3 separate regions of the Homo sapiens genome follow, and all the other regions are linked to region 2. Evidence: fine-mapped expression QTL. A gene starts in region 2. Each other region holds a variant in brackets. All regions are shown on one strand. Distances are from middle to middle.

Region 1 (4,192 bases), 23 kb before region 2:
AGGCCACATGCAAACAGAGTCACACTGGAGAGGCCACATGTGGATACAGTCATGCTGGAGAGGCGACATGCAGACAGGGTCACTCTGGAGAGGCCACACGCAGACAGGGTCACGCTGGAGAGGCCCCACGCAGACAGGGTCACGCTGGAGAGGCCCCACGCAGACAGGGTCACGCTGGAGAGGCCCCACGCAGACAGGGTCACGCAGGAGAGGCCCCACGCAGACAGGGTCACGCTGGAGAGGCCCCACGCAGACAGGGTCACGCTGGAGAGGCCCCACGCAGACAGGGTCACGCTGGAGAGGCCCCACGCAGACAGGGTCACGCTGGAGAGGCCCCACGCAGACAGCATCACGCTGGAGAGGCCACATGCAGACAGGGTCACTCTGGAGAGGCCACATGCAGACAGGGTCACTCTGGAGAGGCCACATGCAGACAGGGTCATGCTGGAGAGGCTACATGTGGAAACGGTCACACTGGAGAGGCGACATGCAAACAGGGTCACGCTGGAGAGGCCACATGCAGACAGGGTCACGCTGGAGAGGCCCCATGCAGACAGGGTCATGCTGCTGGAGCTAACGTGCAGAGTGAGGTATTTGGTAACATGAGGTTGTGCAAGCGGGCTGCTTGTGGTTAGCCATTTCTTAGAACAACGGCTCTCCCCGACCCTAGTTCATGTTCTTGCCAGCTAGGGCCTGTGGTGCCATGGAGCTGTGCAGAGGAGGGAACCCCTTCCTCATTTCTATCAGCTGATCGGGACTCCACAGTTTGGTTTCGCTGCATATGACAATCCCAGCAAAAGAAGCATAAACAAGAAAGAAGCTGATTTCTTTCTGAAGGGAGAATCTGGGGATGACTGATTGAGGGTGAGGTGGCAGCTCCTCGATGTCCTCAGGGACCCAGATCCTGGCTGTCCTGCTCCTCGTCCTCCACGCATAGTGTCTAGCCTCAAAGCCACTCCATGGTCCAAGGTGGCTGCTGGTGCTCCAGCCATCAAGACCACAGGACAGGTGGAAGAAAGCTGGAAAAGTACAGGGCAGAAAAGGGCCCCTCCCAGAAGTCCCAGCTGAGTCAGCTTGTTTTTGAGCCATCTTCCTGGAAGTCTCCTACAGCACTTCTGCCTTTAACCCACTGGCCACGACTTAGCAGCTCGGCTCCACTTAGCCTCAGGGAGGAGGCTGGGAGATGCAGGTTTTCATTCTGGCCAGCTACATGCCCCACGACGCATCAGGGTTCTGCCTCCGCGGAGGAAGGGAAGAGGACCATGTCTGTACAAGGGGAGCTAGACCCACGATAAACATGAGCCACGCTAATGTTGTCAGCATCCCCAGAACAGCCGGCAACACAGCCTCACATCACACCCAACCTCCCGCCAGCCTCCAGCCCTGGGCAGCGTCCTCACTGCACCGCAGCCTAGAGAGGGAGCCAGAGTGCAAAAGGGACAGAAAGGGAGAGAACCGGAGGCCACGCTGACCCGAGCAGCCAGGGACAGAGGACAGACCCGGGAGGCAGATGGGAGTTCAGGGCAAGGAAAGTCTTGGGGGCTGCCTGGGGCGGGGGGAGGGAGATGTGGGGGGCAGAGGTAGGGGTGAGCTGCACCTGGGAGGGAACATGCACCCTCTTCCTAAGGAGACCCTGAGAGGCTCAGGGGAGACGGTAGCATGCAACAGCACCTGCTGCTCCCCTCTGCAGGAGGCCGACTCCACGGAGGACCATGCTCTGGCAGAGGAACCCAAATATGCATTT[T/C]TCCCACACCTCAGCCTCTCCTGGCCCCAAGGCAGGTACAGGCTCAGAGCTGGGGAACCGGCTGGAGATTTTCCTCTTTTTGCTGACTCTGCCCTGGCATATTCTGAGATACAGGGGTCAAGACTTCAACATATGAATTTGGGAGTCACAGTTCAACCCAGCATGCTATACAGATCTCAAGGGTGTCACTCAGGGAGTTGACAAAAGCGGACTCCACCAAGATAAGAACCTGACCACCCCCGAGATATGCGCTCATCAGTCCCCACTGCACCCCCTCCAGAGGCGACTTTTCATTGCAGATCAGCGTGACCTGTTCTAGAGCTTCCTACAGGCAGAGTCAGGCCGCACTGGCCCGCCCCAGCTCTCAGAGGCCGGCCATCACTGTGCACCCACACACCACCAGCTGTAACCCAGGCACAGGACCTCAAGGTGGGCTGGCTCAGCTGCCAACAGGAGCGAGTGGTGCTGAGGTCCTCCCAGGAGCCGTGGCCCAGCACCTCCTGGCCGGAACAACCATCCTATTCAAATAAACGAGTAACAAGAATGGGCACGCTCTCCACTTCCAAAAGCAATGCTGGCCGGGCGCAGTGGCTCACGCCTGAAATCCCAATGCCAGAGGCGTGTGAACCAGAGCAACTCCATCTTGAACAGGAGCTGGGTAAAATGAGGCTGAGACCTGCCGGGCTGCATTCCCAGGAGGTTAGGCATTCTAAGTCACAGGATGAGATAGGAGGTCGGCACAAGATACAGGTCATGAAGACCTTGCTCATAAAGGAGGTTGCAGTAAAGAAGCCGGCCAAAGCCCACCAAAACCAAGGCGGCCACGAGAGTGACCTCTGATTGTCCTCACGGCTCATTATATGCCAATTAGAATGCATTAGCTGCTAAAAGACACCCCCACCAGCACCATGACAGCTTACAGATGCCATGGCAATGTCTGGAGGTTACCTTATAAGGTCTCAAAAGGGAGGGGAGGAGACCTCAGATCCTCTTCATCCCTTTACTTTCCTGATAAACTTGCTCTCACTTTACTCCGTGAACTCGCTCCAAAGTCTTTCTCGCATGAGATCAAAGAGACCTCTCTTGGGGTCTGGATCAGAGCCCCCCCTTTTCCAGTAACACCAGCACTTTGTGGGAAAGACAGAGGCGGGAGGATTGAGTGAGGCCAGGAGTTCAAGATCAGCCTGGCCAACATAAGGAGACCTAAGTGTCTAACTTAAAAAAAAAAAAAAGGCCAGGCACAGTGGCTCACGCCCAATACTTTGGGAGACCAAGGTGGGCAGATCACTTGAGCCCAGCAGTTCGAGACCAGCCTGGACAACATCGTGAAACCTTGTCTCTACAAAAAAAAAAATAATAATAATACTAAGAAATTCCCGGGCACGATAGTGTGCACCTGTAGTCCCAGCTATTCAGAAGGCTGAGATGGGAGAATCGCTTGAGCCCAGGAGGTAGAAATTGCAGTGAGCTGAGATTGTGCCACTGCATTCCAGCCTGGGTGACAGAGGGAGACCCTCTCTCAAAAAAATAAAAAAAGAAACCCAGGCAGGCATGGTGGCATGCACCTATAGTCCCCAGCTGCTCCGGAGGCAGAGGCAGCAGAATTGCTCGAGTGCAGGCTGTAGGTCAAGGCTCTAGTGAGTTACGATTGTGCCACCGCACTCCAGCCTGCGTCACAGAGCAAGCTGCAGTCTTAAAAAATAAAAATAAAAAATAAAAGCAGTGCTATTCTCCTACAAATGAAGAAATCTCATCAGACAAATACTGCCACAAACCAGATGAAAATCATGATCTAATATTCCAACAAGAACTTCAGCTCCGAAGGGAGACTACAGCACAGAATAAGAACAGAGGAGAATAAGCACAGAATAAGAACGCAGGGAAGAGGTGGCCAAACGGCAGCGGAGTCTGTGGTAGGAAATGACAGAATTCAGGAAGGAAACTGAAGAAAAAGACAAAACCATTTCAGAAATGAAGAAATGAAGTTACAGGTAATACGAGAGCAGAGACACCACGAAAATCATGTAAAAAAGGAAAAAGTGAGCAAATGGAAAGAAAGAGGAAAGAGATTAAAAAGGATTAGAGAGAAAGTGACTATAAAAGACCAGTAAAGGGCCGGGCGCGGTGGCTCCCGCCTGTAATCCGAGCTCCGAGCTCTTTGGGAGGCAAGACAGTTGGATCACAAGGTCAGGAGTTCAAGACCAGCCTTGCCAAGATGGTGAAACCCCGTCTCTACTAAAAATACAAAAATTAGCCGGGCATGGTGATGTGTGCCTGTAATCCCAGCTACTCGGGAGGCTGAGGCAGGAGTATCACTTGAACCCAGGAGGCAGAGGTTGCAGTGAGCTGAGACTGTGCCATTACACTCCAGCCTGGCAACAGAGCGAGACTCTGTCTCAAAAAAAAAAAAAAAAAAAAAAAAAAAACAGTAAAGGGGCTCCAGCGTAC
Region 2 (4,192 bases):
GTTCATACACCTTCCCCTCAGCACTTAGAGACACGGGCTGGCATGGCGGGTGCTGGCGGCAGGGGTGAGAAATAAACTTTCAGCCCTAGAGGAGGAGCCCAAGAGGAGAGCATGCCGTCACCTGGAGTCTCTGGTATGTGCCTGGCACCTGTACTGATTGCATTAACCACTGTGATTTTTTAGAAGATGTACTAGTTTGAAATGTATAATACATACGGAGAAGTGTATGAAATATGTACAATTTAAAGATAAGGAAAAATGCATGCCTGTGTGCCCACCACCTAGTGAAGAACTACAACCTGGACACCACTTTGGAAGCCTGTCTGTGTTCACCCGTCGCATTCTCCCTCCTCCCCCAGCCCAGGTATCCTCCATCCTTTAGCCATCCCCTGACTTTCTTTAGTTTCATTGCCTGTGTATGCAGCCACGAATAAAATATTGCTTAGTTATCTGGGAAACCGGGCTGTATAGGAAAAGGGCTCTTAGAACCCCACACCACTGTCAGATGCAGGATCCCAGAAGACTCTGCTCCCAGTCCAGCTTCCAATTCCTGTGGGTTTATAACGGGCCTTTCTAGAGACACTGGGGGCAGGATTCACAGAGCTGGAACATTTGCAGTTAGGACCACATTCCAGATGACCAACAGGGACATGCTTGGGGGGGATAGGCCAATTTGGACTATCCCCTTCTAAGCCCACCAAGACCTACCTGTAGCTCTCAGGAGTGGGGTCAGGGCAAAACATGTATGTGGGGTAAAACAGGTGACCTCTGATTCTAGGCACCAGGAGATGGAGAGAAGAGCAGGAACGAGGGAACACAAGGGGAAGGCAGGCACAGGTGAGAATCTAGGCCAGGCTCACCTGGCCATTCTGTCCTGAGGCTTAAAAACATGCAATGATGGCAATGACAGCATTTGATCTGTCTCTGGAGTCACTTCGCATGAGGTCATTCTCCCTCCACCACCCTCCTGGGGGATTCCTTTACCTCCTCTCCCCCATACATCCCATATTGGGAACTTGTGCTTCCAGCTAAGATGCAGTAACAGACTGAATTTACCCTCTTGCCTGAAACAACTCAACAGCTGGAAAAAAAGAAATGAAACGATGGCTCTGAAAATACTAGAAAAGCAGCACAGGACAGAAGCAGATCACCTTGATTCCAGGGACCTGAAATCTTCTCTGGAACAACACAAGATACAATTTAAATGTAAATTAGGGTAGGCCCAGTGGCCCACGCCTGTAATCCCAGCACTTTGGGGGACCAAGACGGGAGGGTTGCTTGAGCCCAGGAGTTGGAGAACAGCCTGGACAACATAGGGAGACCTAATTTCTACCAAAAAATTTCAAAAATTAGCTGGGCGTGGTGACACGCACCTATAGTTCCAGCTACTTGGGAGGCTGAGGCAGGAGGATCGCTTTAGCCCAGGAGGTCGAGGCTGCAGTGAGCCATGATCATGCCACTGCACTCCAGCCTCGATGACAGAGACCCTATCCCCCCACGCAAAAAAAGGAAATGAATTAACATTAATTCCTCTCAAGATGCCCAGGCTCTATTCACCCCCTTTGTCATTGTCCCTCCAGTTGGAAATTCCTCCCTCCCCCCGCAAAATCCCGCCCACCCTTGGAGGCCTTTTCAGATCATTCTTGCCAGATGAGCTCCCCTTGTCCCTTCTCTGAGCCCAAAGGGGCCCAGCTGCTGTCTGTCTCCCTCCTTCCCCTTGTTTCCCGCGCTACCTCCAGGGCACTTCCCAACTCACTGGCCAAGCCCCCAACGAGCGGTCTATGCTAACTTTGGCTCTGTGAATTTCCTAGAGTGTCATGGGTTGGGGAAAAGCGCGCGAAGTCCTGCCTTGCAGCAGGCGCGAGAGCAGGCGCTTGGGACGCGGGTTGGGGCAGGGGCCCCGGGACGTAGGGGGACGTCTGCGCGGCCCTGCGTCCCCGGGACAACCTGGCCTGGGCTTACCCACGGCCAGGCGCTCCGCGGAGGGCAGAAGCGGGCTGGGCCAGGCTCCTCAGCGCCAGGCCCGGGCCGCAGTGCCAACCCCGCAACGGCACTGGACATGCAAGAGTCGGCGTCAGTGCGCGTGAAGCCGGAGCATTATCAGGCTCAGCCAAACGCGGCCCGGTTCTTGGGCTTTCCGCTCTTTCTGTGGGGCAGAGAGGGAAAGAGGCCTCGAGTCGTGCGGGCTCCAGGCTCCGGGCTCTGGGTGAGGCCTGATCCCTGCTCCCACCCGGCCACCCTCATTCTCCAGTTGTATCCCCTGCCAGAGTCTGCAGCCTCGGGCCGCGGCGTGGTTGCCTGGGAAACGCTTGCGCCTGCGCAGGGCTTCCTAGGCGCTGGAGTCCGCCGGCGGCCTCGCCGCTGCCGGCCGCTCACGGAGGAACTACAATTCCCAGGAGACCGCGCGGTGGGTGGGGGCGGGGTAGTGGGCGGGGCATCGGCAGGCTAGGTTTTCTCCGCGCAGCGCCAGTCGCAGAGGAAGATGGCGCCGCGGAGGGTCAGGTCGTTTCTGCGCGGGCTCCCGGCGCTGCTACTGCTGCTGCTCTTCCTCGGGCCCTGGCCCGCTGCGAGCCACGGCGGCAAGTACTCGCGGGAGAAGAACCAGCCCAAGCCGTCCCCGAAACGCGAGTCCGGAGAGGAGTTCCGCATGGAGAAGTTGAACCAGCTGTGGGAGAAGGCCCAGCGAGTGAGCGCGGCCCGCGGTCGGTGGAGCGGGGCCTGGGGGCGGGGGCCGTGGTTGGGGTCGTTGGAGCGGGGCCCAGGGGTCGGAGGCGGAGGGGGGCGCAGCCGGGGCACCTGTGCCCTACGCGCCCTGTCCTTGGCACAGCCTCCCCCAAGTGTCAGGTGGGGCGCCCCGACCCCTTCTGCAGCAGGAAAGGTACCCGTGCCGGCGACGACGCCGTGTGAAGCAGGTGGCGGCCGGCACCCCGAGGGTCAGTGTCGCCCTCCCCAGCCTGGGCGGCCTGCTGACCCGAGCGTAGGGACAGAACCAGGCTAGATCACAGGTCTCCTGCCTCCCGAGCCTTTGCCTGTTCCCTCAACCTTATCTCCCTATGTGGGGAAACAAGAAAAACAAAATGTTGGGTAGAAAGACGTGTCCAGGGACAGAAGGAATCCCAGTAGCAAGCCCGTGCTTGTTCATTTGAGCGAGAAATGAGGAGGTGAGGAGATGGGATCGGTTTAGAGCACATAAAACGCGACCTTGGGAATGCTGAAAGTCAGTCTTAACAGGGCGCTCACCTGACCTCTCCTTCATTTGAGAGATGAGGGTACGGAGGCCCCGAGGGGAAAGGGCACCCCCAAGGTGGCTCGGCCGGTGGGGCCCCCCGGGACAACAGCTTCCTAATTGGTGCGTGACCCTGGGCCAGCTGCTCTCTTCATTAAGATACGGTTGCTTCATTTGTTAGGTGTTCCTGAAAACACCTGAAATGGGTGTTTTCGAACTATGCCGACCATCTGGGCCTCATTATCTCATCTCAAATGCAGGAGTCAGATTAGATCTCTGTCTCAATAGTCCAGTTTTAAGCATTCCTGAGTCTTTGAGAGGGAAAGTAAGTGATTTGCAGAATAAGAAGGAACTTTTGGAACGAAAAGGGAGAGGAGAAACAGGTGGGGGACAGACAGACGACAGACGGTTATAAGACTGCGTGGGGATGGGGATTGACGCCTGGGCATCAGCTCCACAGGCCCTTCCTGAACTGCTCCTGGGACCAGCAGTCAAGCCCCAGGCGTAATGTTCAGCCTGCGGAGGTGGGAGGTGGGAGAACGCTCTGGGCTGGAGCGGCAGGGCGGCTTCTTGGAGGAAGGGATTCTGGAGGGGCTGGGGACACGGCTGGGTTTGGATGTGTTGATGGCCTCCCAGCAGCAGGGAACAGGTGTGACCAGGAGCAGCCGGGATGCAGTGCTGCCTCCCCGTGCCCACTGCACTGGGCATCTGTTGAGTGGGTGGAGTCCCCCCTCCCCATGAGGAATGGGGAGCCCGAAATAGACTCCCTGACCGATTGGAGGTGGCGCTGAGGAAGTGCACTCGGACCCAGGAACCCCAGCGGCTCCCTTTTGGGTGCTGGCCCAAGTCTTCCACCTGCTCTGCAGGGCCGCCCTGGTGCGCTCCACCTTACCTCCAGCCACCTCCAGCTGGTCCTCTGTCTTTGTCAGCCCAGGCCTCCTGCAGCAATACACCTGCCCTCAGGCT
Region 3 (4,192 bases), 24 kb after region 2:
AAACCCAGATACCGAGTGTTAGTTCCATGGGTGTGGCTGGTCATGGTGCGCACTCACGAAGGATGTAGGTGATGCCCTCCACTCCGCAGAGCCAGTCCCACAGGGGTACCCATTCTGACTCCTACCACCGCAGCTCCCTACCTCCCGCCTGCCATGGGTTCCACGTGCATGGCTCTGGGCAGTCTGTGTCTTTGCGTGCGTCTGTGTATGTCTGCGTGTATCTGCTTACATTCGCTCAGCATCTGAGATTCACCCAGGCTTTTGCGTGGATCAGCGGCAGACTCCTGATTGCCGCGTGGCGGCCTGTTGTGTGGGTGTGTGCCGCGTGTGTATCCAGTCCCTACTCAGGAGTGTACGTTTCCAGTGTGGGTTGCAGTCAGGATCCATTTCTCCCTTAACTTTCAGATTATTTGCTGCATAGGCTTTTTTCTCCTAATTTGGCGCCTTTGTCAGAAATCAACTGACCTACCTGTGTGGGTCTGTTTCTGTTTGTCCTTACGCTCTTGCCATTGCCACACTTTAGACAAGGTCTTGCTCTGTCCCTCAGGCTGGAGTGCAGTAGCGTGATCTCAGCTCACTGCACCCTTGACCTCCCATACTCCAGCAATCCCCTCGCCTCAGTCTCCTGAGTAGTAGCTGCGACCACAGGCGTGTGTCACCACACCCGGCTGATTTTATTTTTTTTATTTTTATTTTTTTTGTAGAGACGGGGTTTTACTATGTTGCCCAGGCAGGTCTTGATCTGGGCTCAAGTGATGCTCCTGTCTCAGCCTCCCAAACTACTGGGATTACAGGTTGTAGGTGTGAGCCATGGTGCCCGGCCGCCACACTGTCTTGGCTACAGTTGGGTTTATAATAAACCCTGAATCGAGGTGATGTGCATTTTCCAACTCTTCTTTTTAAAGATTCTTGTGGCTGTTTATGTCCTTGGTGTTTCCATATATGTTTTACAATCAGTGTCTCAATTTCTACCAAAAAAACATGCCTTCTGGAATTTCAATAGCAATTCCCTTGAACGCATTTTTGAATACCTTTTCTGAATGTCTTGAATACATGTTGGGAAGAATCGGTGTCTTAACAGTCTCCAGTGTCCACGCGTTGACTGCCGTGTGTGACTCCAGTCGGCGTCTCAACAGTCTCCAGTGTCCACGCGTTGACTGCCGTGTGTGACTCCAGTCGGCGTCTCAGCAGTCTCCAGTGTCCACGCGTTGACTGCCGTGTGTGACTCCAGTCGGCGTCTCAGCAGTCTCCAGTGTCCACGCGTTGACTGCCGTGTGTGACTCCAGTCGGCGTCTCAGCAGTCTCCGGTGTCCACGCGTTGACTGCCGTGTGTGACTCCAGTCGGCGTCTCAACAGTCTCCGGTGTCCACGCGTTGACTGCCGTGTGTGACTCCAGTCGGCGTCTCAACAGTCTCCGGTGTCCACGCGTTGACTGCCGTGTGTGACTCCAGTCGGCGTCTCAACAGTCTCCGGTGTCCACGCGTTGACTGCCGTGTGTGACTCCAGTCGGCGTCTCAACAGTCTCCGGTGTCCACGCGTTGACTGCCGTGTGTGACTCCAGTCGGCGTCTCAACAGTCTCCGGTGTCCACGCGTTGACTGCCGTGTGTGACTCCAGTCGGCGTCTCAACAGTCTCCGGTGTCCACGCGTTGACTGCCGTGTGTGACTCCAGTCGGCGTCTCAACAGTCTCCGGTGTCCACGCGTTGACTGCCGTGTGTGACTCCAGTCGGCGTCTCAACAGTCTCCGGTGTCCATGCGTTGACTGCCATGTATGACTCCAGGTATTGAGTTCATCTTCAACTTCTCCCAACAATGAACTGGAGTTTTCTGTGCATGTGTCTGGCATGTTTTCCTTTAGATCTAGTCCTAGGTGTTCGATATGCTATTGAGGACTGTGTATTTTTATTTCATTTGTCACCTGTGCGTGGTGCTTTAATCCTGTGCCCTAAACTCCCGCCTTGGCCATGGCGGTGTTTCTGTGGACTCGTGGGGTTTCCGTGTGCACACGCGTGTCCTCTGTCTGACAGTGGCTTTGCTTCCCCTTGTCAGTCTGTGCCTCGGCTTCTCACTGCACTGGTGAGGTGAGCCGGCGCTCGCTAATCTTATTCCCAGTCTCGGTGAACATGGGCTCAGTCTCTCCCGGCTCAGTGTTGGGTTTGCACTGGTGCACTTACAGGCAGAAGAGCTTCCTCATTTGCTGAGGGCTTTTCCTGAATCCGTGTTGAATGTGGTCAGCTGCCTTTCCTGCACCTAGTGAGATGCTCATGAGGTCACTTC[C/G]TTACCGCATTACTGTAGTGAATTACGCTGACTTTCATATGCCAAGATGACCTGGCATTTCCAGGTAAGTCCCTGTGGCCATGGTGCATTGGCCTTTTCTCTGCATGGCCAGATGAGATTTGCTCATACCGGGCTAAGGACCTCCTGTGTAGGAATGCTCTTGAGGGACACTGGGCTTGGATGTTCATTGTCTTGTCATGTGATGTGTCTGTCATGGTTTGATATTGCATTAAGTGGGCCTCCTGAAACAAGTTCTGCCATAGTTTGTATAGGATTGGCATTATTTGTTTCATAGAGATGTGATGGGTGAGGCCATCTATGCCTGCCATTTTCTTTTTGCTTAGGTTTTTCATTAAGAACTTGATTTTTAAAAATAGACATGAGGCCTGGCATGGTGGCTCACGCTTGTAATCCCAGCACTTTGGGAGGCCAACGTGGATGGATCACCTGAGGTCAGGAGTTTGAGACCAACCTAGTCAACATGGTGAAACCCCGTCTCCATTAAAAATATAAAAATTAGCAGGGTGTGGTGGTGCATGCCTGTAATCCCAGCTACTCTGGAGGCTGAGGCAGGAGAATCACTTGAACTCAGGAGGTGGAGGTTGCAGTGAGCTGAGATCACACCACTGCACTCCAGCCTGGGCAACAGAGCGAGGCTCTGTCTCAAAAAAAAAGACATGAGGCTTTTGGATTTTCTGTTTCTTCCTTTGTCATTTTTTTAAAGATAGGTTTGTCGCAGAATTTCATCTAAGTTATCAAAACAATTTACATAAATCATTCACAGTATCCTCTGTGCAGTGATGTCCATTCTCATTCCTGCTCTGGGCCATTTGTGTTTTCTTTTCCCCCTGATCAGACTAGCTAAGAGTTTATCATTTTTACAGATATTTTCCCCAAAGAAACCTACTTTTGGGTCCATTGATTTTTTTTTTCTATTGTTTTCTTTTTCATTGACTTTTGCTCTTTTCTTATGAATTTCCTTTCTTCTACCTATTTTGTGTTCAATTTGCTGTCCTTGTTTTAGGTTCTTTTGATAGAGGCTTAGATCATTGATGAAGAATATGAAAGAATGGGATAATACAGTTAAAAACTTGGTCTACTTATGCCCATTAGAGAAAACATTCTTAAGCACGCATGGAATCTTTTAAAAATGGACGAGGTACTAGGACCCAAAGCAAATGTCAGTAATTCGCAGATGATAATGTATAAATATATGATATGTAGGTAAATAATACAAATCACATTCTTTGGCCAGAGTGCAATTGAGGAGGAAATCAGTAACAAAAAGACAATTAAATCCATTTGATTCTTTTGTTTTCGTTTTGTAGTAACTTGCACTTCCCTGGTGCCAGAGGCATGACACCTTTTTGTCTGCTCTTGGCCATTTGGGTGGCGTCTTTGGGAAGGGCCTACTTAATTCTTTTGCCTATTTAAAAAACTGGGTCTTGGAAATCTTGTCTTTTTTTTTGAGTCAGGATCTTTCTCGCACAGGCTTGGAGTGCAGTGGTGCGATCATAGCTCACTGCAACCTCAAACTCCTGGGCTCAAGCGAGCCTCCCACCTCGGTCTTCTGAGTAGCTGGGACTACAGGCATGCATCACTATGCTCTGCTAATTTAAAGAAAAGGTTTTTTTTATAGAGACTGGGTCTCGCTGTGTTGCCCAGGCTGGTCTCGGAGTCCTGGTCTCAAGTGATTCACCTGCCTCCACCTCGCGGAGTGCCAGGATTACAGGTGGCGGGAGCCGCCACACCCAGCCTGGTCTTAGCGTTATTCCCAGGTCTAGGTGTGAGTCCTTCCTCAGATATGTGTTGTGAATAATTTCCGATCCTCTGGCTTGCTATTTTACTTTCTTAATGGTTATCTTTTGGAAAGCAAAGGTTTCCAGTTTGATGAAATCTAATTTTTATTTTTTAT

The links. PIP is the estimated chance that this variant, and not a neighbour inherited with it, causes the effect.
Region 1: its variant is fine-mapped to the expression of LRPAP1 in whole blood (TOPMed, PIP above 0.99). The same link has a PIP of 0.9 or more in blood mononuclear cells.
Region 3: its variant is fine-mapped to the expression of LRPAP1 in whole blood (TOPMed, PIP above 0.99).

The regions. Positions count from the first base shown.
Region 1 is chr4:3,553,656-3,557,847 of GRCh38, reverse strand. No RefSeq gene overlaps it. Among named protein-coding and RNA genes, the nearest start is that of LINC00955, 21 kb to the left of the region's middle. The variant T/C (reference allele first, on the strand shown) is at 1,745.
Region 2 is chr4:3,530,703-3,534,894 of GRCh38, reverse strand. LRPAP1 (LDL receptor related protein associated protein 1) reads left to right here and starts at 2,473. Exons shown (of 8, transcript NM_002337.4): 1 at 2,473-2,686. The coding sequence starts at 2,483. RefSeq lists silencers at 2,234-2,293, 2,734-2,983 and an enhancer at 2,484-2,693.
Region 3 is chr4:3,506,774-3,510,965 of GRCh38, reverse strand. It overlaps LRPAP1 (LDL receptor related protein associated protein 1), which reads left to right. Exons shown (of 8, transcript NM_002337.4): 8 at 1-4,192. Among named protein-coding and RNA genes, the nearest start is that of LRPAP1, 24 kb to the left of the region's middle. RefSeq lists an enhancer at 918-2,117. The variant C/G (reference allele first, on the strand shown) is at 2,278.